Regions from separate parts of the Homo sapiens genome. Here regions 1, 2, 3 and 4 are each linked to region 5. The links come from fine-mapping of genetic effects on gene expression. A gene starts in region 5. Each other region holds a variant in brackets. All regions are shown on one strand. Distances are from middle to middle.

What was found.
Region 1: its variant is fine-mapped to the expression of CDKN1C in whole blood (TOPMed, PIP above 0.99).
Region 2: its variant is fine-mapped to the expression of CDKN1C in tibial nerve (GTEx, PIP above 0.99).
Region 3: its variant is fine-mapped to the expression of CDKN1C in whole blood (TOPMed, PIP above 0.99).
Region 4: its variant is fine-mapped to the expression of CDKN1C in whole blood (TOPMed, PIP above 0.99). The same link has a PIP of 0.9 or more in blood mononuclear cells.

What each region holds. Positions count from the first base shown.
Region 1 is chr11:2,557,044-2,561,155 of GRCh38, forward strand. The region is part of intron 2 of KCNQ1 (potassium voltage-gated channel subfamily Q member 1); the gene reads left to right. Among named protein-coding and RNA genes, the nearest start is that of KCNQ1, 110 kb to the left of the region's middle. RefSeq lists an enhancer at 3,828-4,112. The variant C/T (reference allele first, on the strand shown) is at 1,880.
Region 2 is chr11:2,728,987-2,733,098 of GRCh38, forward strand. The region is part of intron 11 of KCNQ1 (potassium voltage-gated channel subfamily Q member 1); the gene reads left to right. Among named protein-coding and RNA genes, the nearest start is that of KCNQ1OT1, 31 kb to the left of the region's middle. RefSeq lists an enhancer at 2,762-2,931. The variant G/A (reference allele first, on the strand shown) is at 2,377.
Region 3 is chr11:2,810,349-2,814,460 of GRCh38, forward strand. The region is part of intron 15 of KCNQ1 (potassium voltage-gated channel subfamily Q member 1); the gene reads left to right. Among named protein-coding and RNA genes, the nearest start is that of KCNQ1-AS1, 49 kb to the right of the region's middle. RefSeq lists enhancers at 923-1,685, 1,686-2,449. The variant C/T (reference allele first, on the strand shown) is at 2,488.
Region 4 is chr11:2,835,561-2,839,662 of GRCh38, forward strand. The region is part of intron 15 of KCNQ1 (potassium voltage-gated channel subfamily Q member 1); the gene reads left to right. Among named protein-coding and RNA genes, the nearest start is that of KCNQ1-AS1, 24 kb to the right of the region's middle. RefSeq lists enhancers at 1-276, 277-1,143. The variant C/T (reference allele first, on the strand shown) is at 1,846.
Region 5 is chr11:2,883,681-2,887,792 of GRCh38, forward strand. CDKN1C (cyclin dependent kinase inhibitor 1C) reads right to left here and starts at 2,095. Exons shown (of 4, transcript NM_001122630.2): 1 at 1,954-2,095; 2 at 990-1,786; 3 at 319-454; 4 at 1-235. The coding sequence starts at 1,776. The coding sequence ends at 324. It overlaps SLC67A1-AS (SLC67A1 antisense RNA), which reads right to left. Exons shown (of 3, transcript NR_169305.1): 3 at 3,664-4,112. RefSeq lists enhancers at 1,085-1,920, 1,921-2,756, 2,757-3,592.

The DNA.
Region 1 (4,112 bases), 330 kb before region 5:
ATCTTTTAACAAATACATTGCTCAGCAGCATTAAGTAAGGCAAAGCAATAATGGGTGGTTGAAAAATAAAGGAATGGCCAAAGAGAGGCCAAGAAACTGCAAGCTAAAAGAAGAAAAGGAGAGAAAAAACAGGGAGATCAGGATGAATATCAACACTGAAGCCCAAACAAGACAAGTGTGAATGAGATCAGGCACTATTAGAAGACCTGACTGTAATCTTTAAGGCATCATACAACATAAAATACATAAAGCAAAAACTATTGAAAATCTGCAAGGACAGGAAGGTTAAATATGATAACGGGAGGAGATTTTAATGTACCTCTTTTGGAATAGGACAGTTCTAGTGGGCACAAAATAAGTGAGGACATGGACAGGTAAATGTTGTAATCATGAGCAATTTCAGATTCTAACAGTAATTTGAAATAACTCCTGTTCTTGTTATCTATAGCCATGTAACAAACCATCCACAAATCTAGCACCTTCAAAATACGCATCACGCCTGAGCTCGCTAGCCTACAGTCTGGCAGGGCTCAGTGGGACGGCTCATCTCCCCTCTGCATAGTATCAGCTGGGGCTGGAGCCTCCACAGCATTGCATCTACATGGCTGGTAAGGCTCCTGTTCATGAGGGCTTCTCCAAGGCTGCATGGATTCCTCACATCTCAGAAATGAACAGTCCAGGAGACAGGCAGTGCCAGGGACTGAGAGCCACCTGGCTGTATTCTCCTGATGCAGGTGTCACAGAGCCCAGGTTCAGTTGGGGAGGACTGGCAAAGAACTTCATAGGACTGTGCTTTAAAACCAGCACTATCACTTCGAACCCTAGTAATGGAGTTGTTTTGTTCCCTTATGTCTGCGGAACACTTACAAAACCAATCATTCATGTGGCTACAAACAAATCTAACCTACCTCAAAAAATTGAGATTTAACTGGCCATGTTCTCTGATCAAAACCCAATATCATGAGAAATAAATGATTAAAAGATTGGGGAAGAAAAATCCCTTACCTATTTGGGAATTAAACAACACTCTCCTAAATAGCCAGAAAGAAGAGATTGATGTGGGAAGTGCGGGCCCTGTAGGGCGTTATGAGACGTAGGCCCCGCTGCCTGCCCCAGCCCCTACATCACTCCAGCTGCCCCCCAGCACCAACTGTAGATGCTTTTATTTTGTAAATTCCATGCCAGTGCCCACATCGCTTGCTGGTGGCTTCACTGTGTTTGCAAATGTTGTCCCCCACGTGGATTGAAATTCATCTATTGCCTGAAAGTAATGAAGTATGTGCCTTGCACACTGTGTAAGCATACGTGTTTATTCAGTGCGTCCTGGGTTCTCACCCCTTGCCAGGTGATGGGTTGATTCAGTGTGCTGGGGGTCTCCAGGCGGGGGGGTCCACATAGTTTTTGCTTCATCAGAATCTGCTGATAAGCCCAGTTCGGAGCAGAGACTAGATGGGCCAGCCTGTGGGCACTCTGCCTAGCGCCATCTGCCTCTCCCACCCCAGGCAGGTGTCAGGTGGCTGCTGCGCCCTGTGTCCGCCTCCTGACCTTGAGAACACCCAGGTGGGGGAGGAAGTGGGCCGCGCTTCGGGAACCCCCACCCCGCCGGCTTGCGCAGCGAGCTGGGTCCCAGGGCTGGAGGCACCTCATTAAACCGCCTGAAACGTGTGTAACTCTAGTCGGCCCCCGTAAGGCACCGGCAGTACATGTGAAATTAAAATTACTGAGAGGCCCCACTCTCCTCCCCTCCATGGGTGGGCAGCCTTCATGGGGAGGCCAAGGCCCGGAAGCCGGCAGTCCTGGGAAAGATTTGGCCCCAATGATAATGGGCCCAAGAATGTGCTAGGCCCAGGGTGTGGTCCAAGTTCCTTTCTTAGCTAAC[C/T]CCTCCACCCTGAGAAGCCTCCCCCACTACACCCACACATGGGGCCAGCTGCCTTGAGCACCTCCTGCTCAGACCCAGGTGAGGTACCTGAGTGACAAATGTCAAGAGTTTGCAGTTACTCCCAGAGCTACGGACAAGGGGCAAGGTGGGGCTGGAGGCACCGGCTCAGCAAGAGGGGTCACTTGAGCCTTGGCCTGCAGGGAGGTTTTGCTCAAGGAGTGTCCCTTGAGCAAAATATTGCACTTTCGTTGCTCTCTGAAAGCCTACCAGGCAGTCTTCCCAGAGGTGCTTCCCGGGAAGCCCGTGGAGAGGATGCATTCGACACCCAAGGCCTTATGGAATCAGTCCTGGGGCCTGGAGGGTCGTAGAGAAATGTGTGAACATGGCTCCCCTTAGGCCAGGGGTAGACGCAGGCACAGGGAGGATCAGGAAAGCCCTGGATCTTGTTGACACCCCGGGATGTGCCCTTGTGGCTACTTAGACGTAGAGCCCGGGGCAGGGGGAGGGCCAGCCCCTGTGGTTTTAGCCTCCTGAGAGTCTCCCCAGACAGCCCACAGGGGACACTGGGCCTCATGCCGCCTGTCAGGATGGTGTCCGGGATGTGGGGACCAGACGACAGCTGTCACCCACTTGCAGGGCCCGGCTGCCCGGTGGATGGGAACGGCCATCCCCATGACGACCCAGCAAGTCCCTTGCCTCTCTCGCTCACCAGGAAGAAGACACGTCCGGGCAGCTGGCAGGTGGGGCTAGTTCTGGAGGGAAAGCGGCCTCGTGCCTCCCAGAGTCACCCCGAAATCATTAACGGGGAGACAAGCACACAGAGCAGCTGGCCGATTGCAGCTCTGAAGGTCAGAGATGGCCGCCAGCTGTGGGAAGGCCTGTGGCTAGGGCTCTGCTGCCTGCTTCCTGGGCAGGGGCTCCTTCCTCCCTCTCTGTCTCTGGGGTCCCATGGGAAGTCAGGGTGGGGCCTGGTGTGTGGCTTCCGCTGGTTTCCTGGGTGTGTCTTCCTGCAGGGCCAGGACCCCCAGAGTGTTCCAGTGACTTCAGAGAGGGGCAGCCAGACCAGGAGGAGCTCCAGAGGTGCCCTGTGGGGAGAGGCAGCGTCCCAAACACGGGGGAGGGGGTACCGCCAGCCTGGGGACAGATAGCAGCATCTCAGCCATGGGGGGCCGTGACATCCGGTCAGGAGGGGGTTAGCATCTCAGACATGGGGGGGAGATGTCCAGCCCAGGGGAATGAGGGGGGTGATGTCCATCCTGGGGAGGGGTGACATCCATCCTGGGGGGACGGAGGCGTGACGTCCATCCTTGGGGGATGGGGGGGTGACGTCCATCCTGGGGGAGTGGGGGCGGTGACGTCCATCCTGGGGGAGTGGGGGCGGTGACGTCCATCCTGAGGGAACAGGGGGGTGACGTCCATCCTGGGGGAATGGGGGGGGTGACATCCATCTTGGGGGTACTGGGGGGTGGCGTCCATCCTGGGACTGGGGGGTGACGTCCATCCTGGGGGGACGGTGGGGGATGTCCATCCTGGGGGGACGGGGGGTGACGTCCATCCTGGGGGCGGGTGATGTTCATCCTTGGGGGACGGGGGAAGGTGATGTTCCTTCTGGGGGGGCGGGGGGGGGTGACGTCCATCCTGGGGGAGACAGTAACATCCCAAACATGGGGGATGATGTCCAGAGTGGGGGTCTTCAGGTCTTTACGGGCCCCTCAGCCTCCCCTTCCACACCCCAAGTACAGCACCCACAAGGCAGGTGCCTGGGAGGGAGACACACCTGTCCCCTGCCTGAAGTTTCTCAGCAGGATTTTGGGCACAAGGTGGGTAGTGAGCTGGTCTCAGCACTGAGCTTGCAGGTGGAGAAGGCGGGCCCCTGACTTTAGGGCGCTCTGGGTGGGATGAGGACAGACGTGGAGGAAAGGAGGGATCCCAGCAGAGGCAGCAGTGGATGGGGGAGGGCTTCACTGCAGGGAGAGTGAGGCTGCGCGGTGCCCTGCAGGACAGATAGGAACTCCCAGGCCTGTAATCCCAGCACTTTGGGAGGCCGAGGCGGGCGGATCACGAGGTCAGGAGATCGAGACCATCCTGGCTAACACGGTGAAACCCCGTCTCTACTAAAAATACAAAAAATTAGCCGGGCGAGGTGGCGGGCGCCTGTAGTCCCAGCTACTCGGGAGGCTGAGGCAGTAGAATGGTGTGAACCCCAGGGGGTGGAGCCTGCAGTGAGCCGAGA
Region 2 (4,112 bases), 150 kb before region 5:
ACTGCAGACACAGGGGCTGTTGTGCATGCAGGGCTGGCAACTGTAGTCACAGAACAATAGCCCGTTTATGTAGCACACTCCCACCCCCCGCCTGCCCCAGGCGGGCACAAAGGGCGCTCGGGCCAGGAACCCATGAGCTGGGCTCTCCCGGGGCCGAGGGTCCAGACCTGTTGCCGAGAAGCTGCTTAGCAAGGCCTAGGGGCAAGGGCTGGTCTGGCCTAGCTCTTTCTCCCTTGAGCCCCCTGCCACAGGGCTAAGGCCATGCTGCGGGCTCGAGTGACTGCCCTGGACGTGACAAATCTCTGTGCCTCGGTGCCCACACCTATACAATGGGGGTAATAAAGTCCCCACATTGTAGCACTGCCAGGTGGATTAAATGAAAGAAGATAGTGAAGTCCTTAAAGTGAGATGTGTTGGCATTTACTCCACAAATACTGAATGCCTGCTCCAGGTGCCAGGGACAGCAGTGACAATACAAAACTGATACGAAATTCCAAAGGGATGTCCACCAATGGGAGACGTATAAGGGCTCTGCATCCATGGATTCAACCAACTGTGGATGGAAAATGTTTGGAAAGAAAGTTGCATCTGTGCTGAACATCTGAACTTGTACAGGCTTTTTGTCTTGTCGTTATTCCCTAAACAATAGAGTGGGTCACGCAGCATTTGTGTTGTTAGGTATCGTAAGTGGTCTGGAGATGGGAGGATGTATGTGGCCTCCATGTCAGTATCACACCATTTCGTATCGGGGGCTTGAGTACCTGTGGATTTGGGTACCTGCGGGAGGTCCCCATGGGTGCTGAGGGACAGCTGCACTTTAGTATTTATCTACAGAGTGCTTGGAAGGGAAAACAAAGACAGGCAGGGCTGGTTTGGGGAAGGGGCCTGTTGTGGATGGGGTCGTGGAGGACCTTACAGTGTCCCCAAAGCGAGGTGAATCTCATGGTGTCAGGGCTAAGAGCATTGTGGAGAGAGGGTACAGCCACAGCAAAGGCCCTGAAGTGGGGATGGGCCCACAGGCTGGCAGGACAGCAAGGAGACCCATGTGCTGGGACCCCGAGAGCTAGGACACGTGAAGCCCTGGCTGGCCCCGAGTGCGGTGTGGTTGGCGCAGATGGCAACAGGGTCACTCTGGCTGCAGAGCCAAGAATGGACCACTGAGGGGCTGGGACAGACCTGGCAGACCAGGAGGGAGGCCACTGCACTAGTCCAGGCGGAGGATGGCAGCTGGACCAGGAGGGCGAGGAGGAAGTAGTAGATTCAGGACTGTTTTGAGAGGGACCATTTTAGCTTCTTACGGCTGCTGTAATGAATTCCCACAAACTTAGTGGCTTTAAGTGACACGTTTATTATCTAACAGCTCTGGAGGTCAGATGTCCGACATGGGCTACATTCAAGGAGCCAGCAGAGCTGGTTCCCACTGGAAGCTCAAAGGGAGGCCCCACCTCCCTTGGCTTGTGGCCTTTCCCCACGGCCCCCTTGTCTCTGCTTCTGTCCTGCGCTCTTCACAACCTCCCTTCCTCCCTCTTTCTCTTATGGGGAGTGCAGGGGTGATCTGGAGGAGCCGGTCAATAGCAGCGTGGTGGGGTCTGGCAGAGACAGACTGCAGGGGGCCTGGGAGGCCCCAGGAGGCAGGTGGACTTTGTCCCTAGGCATCCAGTGCAGAGGTGAGACCTGTATGGCCACAGAGTCTCCCTATCCAGGCCCCATTACCCTGGGGGAGGCGGATTATGGTATGAACTGCTGCAGGTGGTCCAAGAGGGGCTGCCCCTGGGAGACGCAGGGTTCTTCAGTAATGGTGGTTTCGAAGGGCAGAGGAGGGAAGAATGGAGGGATGGGGGACAGACGCTGGAGCCGTTTTGGTGGCAGGCCTCTGTGGCTGTGGCCAGAAGCAGGGCTGGGCACCAGGCCAGATGGACCAGAGGCTGCCCCCAGCTGAACCAACTACAGAAATGAGAGCCCCGGCCCAGCCTCCTCCCAGCCGCCGCTCTCTGGGAGCCCAGCTTTGCTCATAGAAAAGGAAGGCCCTTGTTGCCCTGCATTGGGAGCAAACACTTCCTTTGGCCTCACAGCTCAACCTTGGACCCAAAGGTCCTCAGGGACCTGGGGGAAAGAGAGGGCAGCCAGGCACCTCTGTTCACGGCAGGGGCTGCGTTGCCCAGCCTGGCAGAGGGAGGCAGCCCCTAGGTACAGTCCCCTGTGCCCACTCGAGGGGGTGCTGAATTCCTCAAGGCCTGAGTCAGACCTGGTGCAGCTTCATAAAGCCAAGGGTGGCAGGCGGAATCCAAGGGGCCTCACCGCCCATGCACCCCACTGTTGCATGGAGAGAACAATGCCCAAATGCCCTCGTCCCACAGTCGGCATGCCAGACCCCTC[G/A]GGAATTCAGGCCTTGGTGAGTCTGGCACATTCCGGCTGTGTGTCAGCGGGAGAGGCCTGGGAAAGGGAGCCAGCACTGCAGGCCGCCCACCACACGCCCACTCGGGCACCGGACACAGGGAAGGCGGACACCCAGGGCGGCCATCTCTCGGGACAGGAGGTGCGGCTCCAGGTTCTCACCCAGGAGAGGGCTTTCCTCCCATGTCAGAGTCCCCTTCGCTGCTTGAGGCAAGCCCTCCGGAACAGACCCATCTTTTGGGGGACCCTGTGGTCATGGAGATCAGGTTCCTAGAATCACCCCCAGCAGCGCACACAGGAGGGCCTGAGGCCCAGAGAAAGGCGCCTGAAGCAAGGGAGGGGAGGGCTGGTCCAGAGTCCCTGTCCCCTCTGCCAGCCACCCAGGAGGCTCCTATGGCCCCATCTCCCAGCTCTTCCGGGTGGAAGACAGTGGTGGGTAACTCACTCAGCTAGAGCGTCTGATCACACCACTGCAGCGGCTGCTCACAGCCTTCACCATCAGGACCACAATTCTGAGGGCCCTTTGGATGAAGCCATCTCACAGAGCTGTCTCCTGCAGAGAGGAGAGGAGAGGGAGGCCGCCTTGCCAGCAGGGGACCAGCGAGGTGTGGCCTGCAAGCCGTGGGCTCCTGTGTTCCTTCCTCCCCCTTCAGAGGAATGGGAGGAAACCAGGCTTGAGTTCCTGATTTTTGCCCTTTAGGGTTTTTAAATTGTGGGAGAGCCAGGAGTGCCTGCGTGGTGGCCTCTGTCGACTCCATTTGCTCTGAAGCGGGGCTGCGGCCAGGCAGTGCCTCTCAGCCTTCTGTTTGGTGGGTGAGGACGATGCTTGGTCTTGCCTCAGGAGCATTGCTGGCACCTCTCATGTGCTCCTGGGCCTCTCCCCAACCCTCACCTTGGCATCCCCCAATATCCAAACAATAGTCCACAAAACAAGCTGCCCCGTGGGCACTGCGAAGACCCTCGGGGCCAGAGCCACTCCCTCAGGGTGCTGAGGCCACCAGCTGGGGCCTCCTCTTTCCACACTATTCCTGACGCCTGGGCTGGGCAGGGGACTCCTGGCTTCGTTTCTTCCCTCGCCTTTGCTGGGCCATCTTTCAGACCTTGCCTGGTACCTTCTCTCCCCGTGCCAAGGCCTGGAGGTGATGTGGATGCAGCCGGGCAGTGAGGAGCGCAGGCGAATGTTACAGCAGGCGCGAGCGAAGGGGCCCGAGGCACCGGTGCTTCCGACGGGGCCCGAGGGCCGTCTGACCTTTCCGGCCACGGGGCAGCAGTTGCGTGAGCAGGAACAATCGCCCCAGTGTGCAAGGCACAAGCGGCCTTTTCTTCCTCACCGGGCCGGCGCACACAGCTCCCAGCCTGGCTTCCCTTGAACAAACATATTTATTGTGGCCGCCACCGAGGCCTCGCCTTGCAGCCGGAGCCTGGGGGCCTCTGTCCCACCCACTGGGGCCCAGGGAGGGGACCCCTGCCCTGGCGGTCTCCCCTGCCCCATGGGCCCCAGCCCCATCTTGCCTGAGGCAGGGGTGGCTCTGGTCCCACCCACCCTCTGGAGGCCCAGAAACTCGAGGCTCCTGCTGGGGGCTGGTGACCACCCACAGGCAGCAAGCCAGCCAGGGTCCTGGGAAGAGGGGGTCTGGGACACAGCCACACCTGAGCCCATCCTCCACCTGGAGCCAGCCCCTTACCTTCTGGAGCCTCAGTTTCCCCCTCTGTAAAAT
Region 3 (4,112 bases), 73 kb before region 5:
CATCATGGAGGCCACCATCTCTGTTCTCTCTTTCTGAAATTCCTTTTAAGTCAGACTGAAGACATTTTTAATGACACTTTGATGTCTCAACTTTCTTCCCCTTTTTTATGGCATTATATTCTTAACTTTATCTCTTCAGAGTTCTAGGAAATGTTTTTAGCAGTCCTGTTTTTAATATCCCAGAGCACACGCTTGCTCTCTGACCGTGGTCATGGCATTCCGCCCTCATTTGATGGGCACGACAGCTCCTAGGATCTTTCTGGAGACTCCAGATACATCTTATATCTTAAGTTCTGCTTAATTCCTTGATCTTCTGTTTATGTTTGGCCAGCCAGGCCCCTCTCTCTCATGTTCTGAATGTTTTTCAATGTTTGCTCGGGATCTGTGCATGGATGGGCCTGCTGGCATTTAGGATGTGTTGACAATGACTGGGGGAGGTGCCTGTCATTACACTGAGGAACCCCATATGTTAGAGCTCTGAGGCTGCTGCATCTGAGAGCTTGGGCTCGAGGTACAGGGCTGGCAGCCGGGAGTCCCACCTGTAGGACGCTCTGCTGTGGCAGAGGGACAGGACATGGACCTCATGCTCAGCCCCTTCCCATCGTCTTGGTGCTGTGGGCCTGATGTGTGCCTCCACAAGGACTCCCGCCTTCCCAGCATGGCATTCAGAGCAGCAGATGGCTTAGACTCACCCCCGCCCAGTCTTGGCACCCTTACAGCCCCGGCGAGACCCGGGTGGGCGTGGACCCTAGCGTCCCTTCACCCTCAGGCTGTGCACCTCCGCAGTGCCGTGTCCTGTCTGGAGCCTGTCACACCCCTGTACAGCTACCCCAATCCAAATGGAGCCTCCCCCAGGAAGCCCCTGGTGGGAATCCGTCCCCACGACCCCTGTCCGGCTTCCCTGGCTCATTGTCCCTGTTACAACCCAGATTTCCCTTATCGCAACTGGTCCTAGCCTGTGACCTCCTGGGGTGGGGAATCATCTCTGCAAACACAGCTCCTCCACCCTTATCAGTGCTTTGTGAAGGCAGCAGAACGTTCTCCTGAGCCAGTGTCTGGGTCACTTGAGCAATGGCTGCCAAGTCCATGGGCCTGCACGCATGAGGCTGTGCCTGTGTCTGTGCCGCTGGAGACCTTCTTGAGGTTCACTGCCCTAAAGGCCGCATGAGGGGACAGAAGGTGAACACAGGGCCCTGCTTGGTCTGACAAGCCCAGGCGGGGCCCTTGCCGAGCGTCAGGGTGGCTGGCAGCCACCTTCTGTGATCGTCCTCCTTCTGGGCTGCGGTCTAGGGCTGCACATTCAGGATGGGGATGTCCCAGTGGGCGCGCAGCACAAGGGTCAGCAGACCCCTGGCTGGAGGAGGTCAGTGTGGGGGGCTGCGTGGGAGACGGTGCAGCAGTGGGCCTGGGAGCTGAGCAACGGTGGCTGGGATGGGTGGAGACCACCAAAGAGGAGGGGCCGGCGAAAGCCAGGCTTCCTGCAGGCTCAAGCCTGGAAAACGGTGCTCAGTGAGCAACACATTCCCGTTCTACAGTTTCCTGAGCTCCCGAGTGCCCGCCGCAGGATGACAGTGGGACAGTCCTCACAGGGGCATGCTCAGGCCCTGCCCCAGGCAGACCCCACGCCCTGGCACGCAGCCCCACCGGCTGTGCCGCCTCTCGTTCCTGTCCTCCTGGCACCGCCGGCCACCCCTCAGCCCAGCCCTCATGGTTCTCTAAGCCGCCGCCTCCTCAGGAAGCCTCCCAGGCACCCATGCTCCCTGCACTGACCCCCAGACCCCAGCTTTGGCCATGCACTCCCAGACGGCTGGTCCCCACACAAACTTTCTGTTTCAAGGAACAGAAACACCCCTGAAACTTGTCTAAGAAGGAAATGTGTCAACTCACATACATGAAAAGCCTGAGTCCCTCCTCAAAGTCCTCCCCTCCCTCCTTCTCTCTCCTTCCTTCTTTCCCCCTTCCCTCCTTCCCTCCCTCTCTGCTTCCTTCTCTCCTTCCTCCCTGAGACCTGGGACGCCGAGGAGGGTTCCGTTCCCTCCCCCACCCTGGCAGTGCTCGGGGGCTCCAGTTGAAAATGATGGGGGACACATTTGCATCACAGCCTGCCCGGCCGGCTCTGTGGCCCCTGATCTTCCTACTGCAGCCTCTGCCGGGGCCGGAAGGGCATTTCCGGGAGGCGGGAACAGCATGTATGAAGGCAGAGCTCCTTCCCGGAGAGGAGGGCCAGCCCCGTCCCCAGGGGCTCCCGGCTTTCTCTCTCCCCCTACATTCCTGTCTCCATGCAGCAGCCAGAGGGACTTTAAAACATAAACCAGACCACAGCACTGCCTGCTCAAGCCCCCCATGGCCTCCCTCTTCCCTAGGAAGCAATCCAGGCACCCTTCCATGGCCGTGGGCCCCACGCCCCCGAGGCCCCACGCCCCCGGGGCCCCATGCCTGCCCTTGCAACATCCCCTTCCTGACTCCACCCAGCCTCCTGGGGGCTTC[C/T]GCCTCAAGGCCTCTGTGCCTGTGTGAGTGGCACCCTGGGGTTGTGCCATGGCCAGCCCTCAAACCATCTGAAGTCTGCTGTTGGCACCTGCCCTCTCCTGGCTGCAAAGCTGCCCCCTCATGGCCTCAGGTCTCTGCCCCAGCCTCCAATCCCTCATTACTGCCCCAGCCTGTGCCTGTGCCTGGAGGCTGTGGCCTGGCTCTCCAGCTGGAACAGAAGCTCTGAGAAGACAGAGCTGGCCAGCACCATCTCTCCTGTGAGAACCCTGTGCCTAGAACGGAGCCTGGTACAGAGGAAGAACCCGACAGACTGTGAGCCCTGTCTTCCTCTTGGCACCATGAGTCACCTGTCAAACTGAGGGGCTGGCAGAGCTGGAGGGAGTTCCATCCCAGCCCCAAGGTGCCTGGAGTAGCTTATGGAGGTCACTGATGGCCTCAGGATGCCAGCAGGCCCTCTGATGCCCAGGGCTCATTCAAGGGCATCTGCCCTGTGTCCTCATGCACCTCCATTCAGGGAACCTGGGCTCCCCACTCTCACAGGGGTGGAGACCTGCACCTCTTTTTCACCCCCAAACCCGCCTGCCCGTCAGTGCTTAGAGCAAATGCCCCTCCCCCGCCATCTTTTCATGACTCTCCCCCTTCCTCAACCCTGCGCCTGGTCACCAAGTCCTGACAACACCTCCAGCCCCTGTCTCTATGGTCCCCTCCTTGATCTGGAGCCATTCAGCCACATGGAGTATGTCCTCTGTCGAGGGGGCAGGGACTCAAAGGATGAGAGAAGGAACAGAGGGGAGGACCAACATCTCGGCTGATCCTGGTCTATTTTTAGTCGGTGGTGGGCTGTCACTCCGGAGGCCAGTGACTGCGTCATCAGTGCCTTTTGATCTTGTTGCCGCAAGATACACAGGAGGCAGCTGCTCACTGCTTGTGGAAAGAATGAGGGCGGGCACATAGGCCTGGGGTGTGGGGAGCATTAATGAGTGTGAGTGAGTGGCGGATGAGTAGGTAGATGGACGGGGAGCTGCAGGGAGGGAGGGTTGCAGAAAGGGATGCGTGGAAGGATGGTTGATGGATGGATGGTTAGATGGATGAAGAGATAGATGAATGGATAAAGAGGTGAAAGGATGAATAGAGAGATGGAGGGAAGGAGGGCTGAATAAAGAAATGGATGGATGGATGGATGATGGATGGATGGGTGTGTGGGTATGTGGATGGAGAGATGGATGAATGGTTAAAGAGGTGGATGGATGAATGGAGAGATGGAGGGAAGGAGGGATGAATAAAGGGATGGGTGGATAATGGATGGATGAATGGGTAGGTGGGTGAATGGATGGATAGATGGTTGAGTGGGGGGGTAGATGGAGAGATGCATGAATGGATAGAGGTGGATGGATAAATGCAGAGATAGAGGGAAGGAGGGCTGAATAAAGGATGGATGGATGGTGGGATGGATGGATGGATGGATGGATAGATGGATGGATGGATCGATGGGTGTGTGGGTGGGTGGAGAGATGGATGAATGGATAAAGAGGTGGATAGATAAATGGAGGGAAGGAGAGCTGAATAAAAGGATGGTGGGTGGGTGGATGGATGGATGGGGAAATGAAGAGATGGGTGGGTGGATG
Region 4 (4,102 bases), 48 kb before region 5:
GTGGTACAGCAAGGGCAGAAGCCCCACCTCCAAGGAGCTGACCCCCTGCCGTGGCAGAGACAGAAAACAAAGGCAGCACCACAGCGACGAGGGCCTGAGAGGAAAGTGGAGCAGGAGCCTGCAGCATGCTGGGGCAGGGGTGTCTTTAGAAAGGGTACTGGGAGGGCCCTGGCAAGGGACTTAAGTAATTACTTAAAGGAGGGAAAGGGTGGCCTGGGGCTCACAGAGGAAAAGCCTTCCTCATGGAGGCGGCGGGGCAGCGGGCTCAGCCTGCAGTGTCCAGGAGCGACGGGAAGCCTCGTGGGGCTGTTGGGAGACAGCAAGACCTGGGTCAGCAGAGCACCGTGTGGGGTAAGCAGATGACAGGGCAGTGACAGGGTGATCGGGCCCGGTCAGTGGTCCCAGGGGTCGGGGACAGGTGGGAATCGAAGTCATAGGAGGCGGGGCAAAGGCCACGGGGAAAGGGACAGAGCTGCTCCCAAGGACGCACCACCATGGGGTGCCCCGTGGCGTGGCGGGGGTGGGGGTCAGGACCTTTAGCAGAAGGTAAAGATGAGACCAAGAGGCAGATGGGTGGAAGAGTTGAAAGCAGCCAAGTGTCACCAAGGCATTTCTGAGGGAGAGGGACACGACTAGTGGCTCAAATCTTTAGAAATGAGGGGATGGGTCTGGTAGAGCACCCCAGATTCAAGGCGGGTGGCTTGGGGAAAGCAGGGAGAAGGGTCTGGAAACTGCTGCTGAGCAGGAGCCCCCACACCCACAGAGCAGGTGCAGGGAGGCCCATCTGTCCATCCGTCTGTCTGTGGGGAGGCATGGTGACGTTTCAGGCCGGAGGTAGAAGTTTTCACCCAGGAGGTAGAGGGTGAGGCCGGACTGCACTCCAAGGGGAGGAGGTGGGAGAGCACAGCCTGGCTGCTGCCACCAAGCTCCCCAGAAGAGGGGACCCCTCCCCCCGAACACCAGCACATGTAGGCAGAAAGACTTGGCCTGTGGAGCCCTCAGCCTCCACGCCCACCAGCAGGGACTGGGTGGTGATGTCAGCAATCCCCACAGAAAGGAGGGCTGCACAGCCGTCCCAGGAGCCAGCACTGTCCCCGTGATTCTACGTGCAGCCTCCACAAGTGTGTCGCATGGAAACAAGCAGTGGAGAGCCACATGTGTGTCACATCACGCCTCGCCTCACTCGTGCTAAACCTCGCTGACCAGGCAGAACCAGGCACGAGCTGCGTATCAAAGTTGCTGGAAGGAGAAACATCAGATCCCTAAGCTGGTTACCTGGCAGGCAGGGGCCCTAGAGGGAAATGGGGCAGGTGAAATGGAGATGTGTCTTTGAAATGTCTTTATTTGGCGGGAGAACGTCTTCATAGGGTACTTATACCATGAAAAACCCTGTACACAGACTAATTTTGAAGCAAACATGTGAGGCGTTCACAGAAAGGGTTCAGGAAGACAAGCACCCCAGCCGCAGAGAGCCCGTGGGCTGGGGGCACGGGGCATGGCAGCCCTCTCCTGGGGATGGGCAGGATGGGGCACGTAGGGCGGAGGAAGAGGCTCACATGGTGTGCGTGTTTGGGAGCACCCTGGGCAGCCTCTCGAGTGTCCAGAGAGAGGACACCGTCTTGAGCCAGCAGGGACAGCCAAGAGCGCCCGGGGAGAGGCCTGGGTGGAGACAGAACACAGCAGGCTGTGGGCGTGGCCAATGTTGAGGGACGGAGGTGGCCAGAGGCCTCTCAGTGGTGCCCAGGGAGCTGGGGACGAGGGGCCTCATCCTTCCCCTGAGCCCCTCCCTTCAGGCCCAGGGAGTGGCCTGGGGCCCAGGAGAGCCCGCTCCGCGCTCACAGCCTC[C/T]GTTCCCAGACACGCCCGGGCCTGAGCCCCCAGGCTGCACTGTGCCACAGAACAGACTCCCCGGCCCCTCCCTGCTCGAGAGGTGACCAAGGCCCAGGGTCTCCCAGCGAGCAAGAGGCCATTGAACTGTTGTTGGCTGTGCAGTGCCCTGCCCTCGGGGAGGCGGCCTCTAAGAAGCACACACCACCAGCAGGAACCGGGCAGACAGAGGTGGGGGATGGAAAGCAGGGGAAGTGGCCACAGCCAAACCAGGAGGGGGAAGGGAGGGGGCCTCACCAAGGAGACCCTCACCTGGGGCCTGGAGAATGAGAAGGGTCTGGAGGCTAAGGAGAGGGGTGGATGCTCCAGGAGGCAGGGCCAGCCCATGTGAGGGTCCTGAGGTAGGAACCAGAGGAAACCGGCTCTGGGGCGAGAAGGGCGGCGCCCAGGGGGCCACAGGGGCCGGCGGCGAGGGACCCTCAGCCGAGGCTGGTATCTCGAGAACAGCAGGGATGCCTCAAAGGTTCTCGCCCAGCAAGTGGACATTGTGGTGTGGGAGATCAGCAGGTGCCGGTGCTTTCTCTGTCTGCAGGAAGGAGAGGGGGTCATGGGCCCCAGAGGCCTCTGTCTTAGAGAAAAATGGTGGCAACGTGGGACAGACTGAGGAAGCCAGCCCAGAAACGTCCCGTCCCAAATTCAGGAATATTTAGGGTATACCTGCTGCACGCCAAGGGCAGTTTCAGGAAGGGGACCTACTTCTGAGAAGCAAACACCACCAGTAGGGACCAGGCAGACAGAGGTGGGGATGGAAGGAAGCCAGACTGACCTCACGTGGCTCACAGCCACTGGCAGGGTCGGGGGACAGGTGCCAAACTATCCACATGCCCGTCAGGCACCTGGAGGAGTGTGAAACGGCATGCAGAAAGAAGGAAGCAGGCTTGGGGCTGGGGGCCAGGGACCGGCGCGCCGGGAAGCAGGCTGCAGAGTGAGGCCAGGGATGGGGGCTGGGCCAGACCACAGGGTTGTGAGCGGACTCTGGCATTGATCCGGAGCCACTGAGGGTTAGAGCCTATGACTGACAGGGGTCTGACTTCCAGTGGTATGGGGCCACCCTGCTGGGCTGGGGAAGGGAGGCGAGAGGAAGTATCTAAGGTCTGCTTGTGGACTTCCGGGGACAGCGAGGGGTATTGCTGGGGTCCTAGGGGCTGGTGCGCTCAGAGGTTCCAGATGGCCCAGCAAGTGGCTGAGGGCCCAGGGTAGGGGAGGATGTGGGGGCAGCAGGGCCGATGTGGGCAGACCTGGAGCAATGACACGAGAACGGCCAGGCAGCCCTGGCTTCCCCTGCCCACCTGCCCCCGTGGCCGGGCTGGGGTTTGGCTGAGGCAGCAGAGCGCTCGCTGGCTGCCCGAACAAAGTGTTCTGCCTGGTGTCCCCTGGCCTCCGGGCCTCTGCGGGCTCGCCAGAGGGGGCAGCTCAGGAGGCAGCGGCAGAGAATCAAATGCAGGTGGGGCCTGTGCCCACCGCCAGCACAAACACGGCTCCTGGGCCCCCAGCCTGCCCGACGTTCCTGCCCGCCTGGCCCCCAAACAGAGGCCGATGGGACGAGCCCTGCCCGGGGTTGCACTAGGTGGGCAGGTGGGCAGGTGGGCAGGTGGGCAGCTGCCTCGGGCTCTTGGACAGAGCCGCCCCTGCCTGGCGTCTGCCGGCAGGAAGCTCCTGAGGCCGGGCTAGGGATAGGCCAGCCCTTGGGGGAGGCTCGAGACCCCATCCCAGCCTGGGGCTTCCCCACCCCCTCCCACCTGCCTGGCAGTGAGGCAGCTCCCTGGCCTCTGGGTGCACCTGGGCCTCCTGCCCAGGCCCCTTCCAAGGGAAGAGGGCAAAGGGGCTCCAGTGCCACCCAGGGAGTGTTGTGCCACGTGGGCCCCCCTGGCTCTGCCACTGACTCCCTCCATGACCTCTGTCCCCACCCTGAAGTTGACATGAATGTCCGCACGGAGCAGCCTCTGCAGGTCTGTGAGGCTGTGGATGTGACAGCTCTGGCTCTGGCACAAACGTCAGCCCCAACCCAGATGCAGGGAGGGAGGTGGCTGCGTGTCCAGGAGCACGGGGCCATGTGGCACCGGCTCATGTCAGCAGACACGGCACACATAGACCCCCTGGGGGCTATGACGAGGTGAGGGCTGAGCCGAGGGAGAATCCAGGAAGGCGTGCGGGCCGAGAGGAAGAGGAAGGGAGGCTCTGGTGGCTGGAGCCAGCTGGGGGAGGGAAGGCAGCAGGG
Region 5 (4,112 bases):
GACTCTTAAAGCTTTACACCTTGGGACCAGTGTACCTTCTCGTGCAGAATACATTTAGATATAAAAAGACGTTATTAATACATTGCACAGTTTTCAAAATTTAAAAACAAAACCGAACGCTGCTCTGCGGCAGCCGCCGCCGGTTGCTGCTACATGAACGGTCCCAGCCGAGGCCCAGCGCCCTTCCAACGTCCGCTGCCCCGGCAGGTTCCCTCGGGGCTCTTTGGGCTCTAAACTGCGAGGAGAGGGGCGGTCAGCAAAGCCGGCGGGGACCCGGCGGGTCGGCCCTCCGCGCCCCCCCAGGTGCGCTGTACTCACTTGGCTCACCGCAGCCTCTTGCGCGGGGTCTGCTCCACCGAGCCCACGCCAGGGGCGGCGCTTGGAGAGGGACACGGCGCGGGGACATCGCCCGACGACTTCTCAGGCGCTGATCTCTTGCGCTTGGCGAAGAAATCTGCGGGCGACAGCGCGCGCGGCCGGTCAGGGCGGGGCCGGCCCGGAGACCCGAGAGGGGGCCGGGAGAGGGCGCGGGGCGCGGGCCGGCCGGGGTGGGGGCGCCGTCCCCGCCCGCGCCGAGGTCCGCGGCGGGTCAGCTTTGTTTACGTCGCCGCGCAATGTGCTGTGTAAGCATTTCCCCTTGTCCCGCGGCCAAGCCCCCCGGGGCCGCCGCCGCGCTTAACCCCCTCCACGCCGTGCTCACGGCGCCCGGCCGCGCCCGGGGAGGGGCTCCCGCGGCCGGGGGCGAAAACTGCGCTCCCGGGGGGTCGCGGCCGGGATTCAGCCTCCCACCCCGCCCGCGCGAAGCCGCTGGAGGGCACAACAACGGGGCGGGGAGGGGGGTAAGGGCGCAGCCGCGCCCTGAGCGCTGCGGGCCCTTTAATGCCACGGGAGGAGGCGGGAACCCAGCGAGGCCCCCGAGGGCTGGGGGGACCGGCCGGCCGGACAAAGCGGGGCCGGGCCGGGCCGGGGCGGGGCCGTGCGGGGCTCACCGGAGATCAGAGGCCCGGACAGCTTCTTGATCGCCGCGCCGTTGGCGCTGGCGGCCGCGGTGCCGGCCGCGGGACGTCCCGAAATCCCCGAGTGCAGCTGGTCAGCGAGAGGCTCCTGGCCGCGCTGCCCCTGGTTCGCGCCCTGCTCGGCGCTCTCTTGAGGCGCCGCGTCCGGGGCCGGGGCCGGGGCGGGGGCCGGGGCCGGGGCCGGGGCCGGGGCTGGGGCCGGGGCCGCGACTGGAGCCGGGGCCGGAGCCGGAGCCGGAGCCGGGGCCGGGGCCGGGGCCAGGACCGCGACCGCGACCGGAGCCGCGACCGGAGCCGCGACCGGAGCCGGAGCCGGGGCCGGGGCTGGAGCCAGGACCGGGACTGGGGGCGGGGTGGACGCCGGGGCCGGGACCGGGACACTAGGCAGCTGCTCCGGCGCCTCCTCGAGGCCGTCGAGGGACTCAGCGGCCGGCTCGAGGGGCGGGCTGACAGCCACCGCGACCGCGACGGGCCGCGGCGCCAGCAGCAGGCGGCAGCGCCCCACCTGCACCGTCTCGCGGTAGAACGCGGGCACCGAGTCGCTGTCCACTTCGGTCCACTGCAGGCGTCCAGGGCCCCGCAGCGGCATGTCCTGCTGGAAGTCGTAATCCCAGCGGTTCTGGTCCTCGGCGTTCAGCTCGGCCAGGCGGGCCTGCAGCTCGCGGCTCAGCTCCTCGTGGTCCACCGGCCCGAAGAGGCTGCGGCAGGCGCTGGTGCGCACTAGTACTGGGAAGGTCCCACGGGCGACAAGACGCTCCATCGTGGATGTGCTGCGGAGGGACGCGTCGGACATGGCCCGGGGCTGCGCAAACGCGGGCAGCGAGAGAGGAGAGGACAGCGAGAAGAAGGGGAAAGGAGAGGAGGAGAGGGCGGAGGCCGGGCGCAAGGGAGACCCCGCGCCGCCCGACTCTGCGTGTGCGAGGGACGCGGCGGCTACCTGGCTGTCCGGTGGTGGACTCTTCTGCGTCGGGTTCGCCTGTCTCGTCCGGACGGCAGCCGCGCCCCCTCGATGCCTGCTGGCTAGCTCGCTCGCTCAGGCCTGGCCGGCACCCCTCGAGCACAGCGCACTTGGCCTGTGGAACGCCCAGCCCGCCTGCGCCCCCTTTATACGCGCGGGCCCCACCCCCGTGCGCGCGGGCCCGGCCGCGATTAGCATAATGTAGTATTTTCAGTTTCAACAACACCACGGCGATTGGCGGCCGCCCCGCTGCCCCGCCCCGCCGCGGCCCGGCCCCCGCGCACCGCCCATTGGCCGCGCGCACACCCACCGGGGGCGGGGCGGGGCGCGCGGCCGGGGCGCGCGGCTGATTGGCGGCCGCGGGGCGAGCGCGCTGTAGCAGGGGAAGGGGGCGGTGAGCGGGGCGGGGGCGGGAGTTAAAGGGCGCTGCGGGCGGTAACGTGACACCGCGACGCCCGCCCCCTCGCCCCATCCCCCCTGCAACACTCCCCCACCCCCCCGGCTCCCGCCCCCCGCCGGCTCCTTTGTCTGCAGGCGGGGGCCTCAGCCCAGCGCGGCAGGGGCCGGCTCCTGGCGGGTCCGGTGTCCGGCCAGGCCCAACTCGACCCCGGCCCGGTCCGGACCCCGGCGCCCAGCTCCGTCCCGCGCTCGCCCGTGGGCCTCCTGCGCCAGCTGACGAGGCTTGGACCCGCCGCTGCCAGCTCGGCCCTGGCCTGCGCCGGATGGGGTCTTCGGCTGCCCCCGCGCGGCCTGCTGCTGCTGGGCTGGTGTCCCTTCGAGGGCTCCGCGCGCCTGGAGCCCTCACACACCTGCTGGCCCTAAGGCCCTCGAGTCGGGAGGGGGGACAGGGGTCAGCTCCACTCTTTCCCCGAGGGACCATGTGTGGGACACCTTGAGAGACTCCCACCAGCCCCCTGGAGCTGGAGTCTGAAGCCGCTATCTGCGGAGGCCCACCCTGCCCAGTAGATGGAACAGGGGCTGAGCCCATCATGTCACTGTCGGGGGTCCCAGCCCTTCTCAGCCTTGGGCCAGACCACTCCAGCCCCGGGATCTGCCTGTCCAGGCTGGCTGGAAGCTGTTGTACTGGGTAAAAGTGAAAGATCTGCCCGAGGTCATAGGGGAAGGGGCTGTGAAGGACCATGCCCCTCCCCCGCCTGCAGCCCTTCCTGGTACAGACCTCGGTCGTGCGCGCACGCACACACACACACACACACACACGCACGCACACACACGGTGCTTCACCCCAGCCAGGCCAGACCAAAAGAGACCATTATTTCCTGCTGCCTCCCTTTTGGCCCACCTACCATGAGGCAGGGAGCCCCCTCCTCAAACCAGGAGCCTCCCAGATCGGGATGGGGACTGTCAGACACCTGTTGGAGGGTCCAGCAGCCCATGAGATCTAAGCCCCTATCTCAGGTGAGCCTGTGAGCCAGCAGAGAGACCTCTGGGAGGGAGGGAAGGTGCGGTCCCCTGAACCCCAACCAGCCTGCCTTTGAGTCCCAAGACACCCCCACCCCCATGGAATGCTGTGGCAGTGTGCAGCTGCAGCTGGGGGAGCAGGGCGGGTCTTCTGGGTCTCAGGGAAGCGAGATCTGAAGTGAGGGGGGTGAACTGGATGGGACAGGGCGTTAACCCAGGAGAGGGGCCAGGGCCATTCTTGGCTCTTGATGGTGGAACCAAAAGCCATGATTTATGTGCAATTTCATATTCTTCTCTGTGCACAATTTACAAATTTCCCGCAACAAGCCCAGATGTCACAATTTTCATCTTAGGAAAACAAAGAGAAGCTGAAGAAGGCTCCCCAGGCCCTGCGAACCCCTCAAGCAGGGCTCATATCAACTGGCCTGGGGGCAGAAAGAGGCAAAGTCTAGTCTGCTCCATGCCCCTATGCTGCCACCTCCCCAGAGACTAGGAGCAAAGGGCTAGAGTGGGTAGTGACCTAGAGGCCCCCGGATACCCACACTCCAACCATCAGGACTCATTGGCCTTGGTGACACCACTCAGAGGGTGTAGCTGCCATCATCCTGTGTTATAGAAGAGCAGCAGAGACCGCGTCAGCCGCTGAGGCCGCACAGCTGGAAGGAAGCAGGGCTCAGAACTCCCGGGCTGCCTGGCTTTCTGGTTTGGTTTCCACTTAG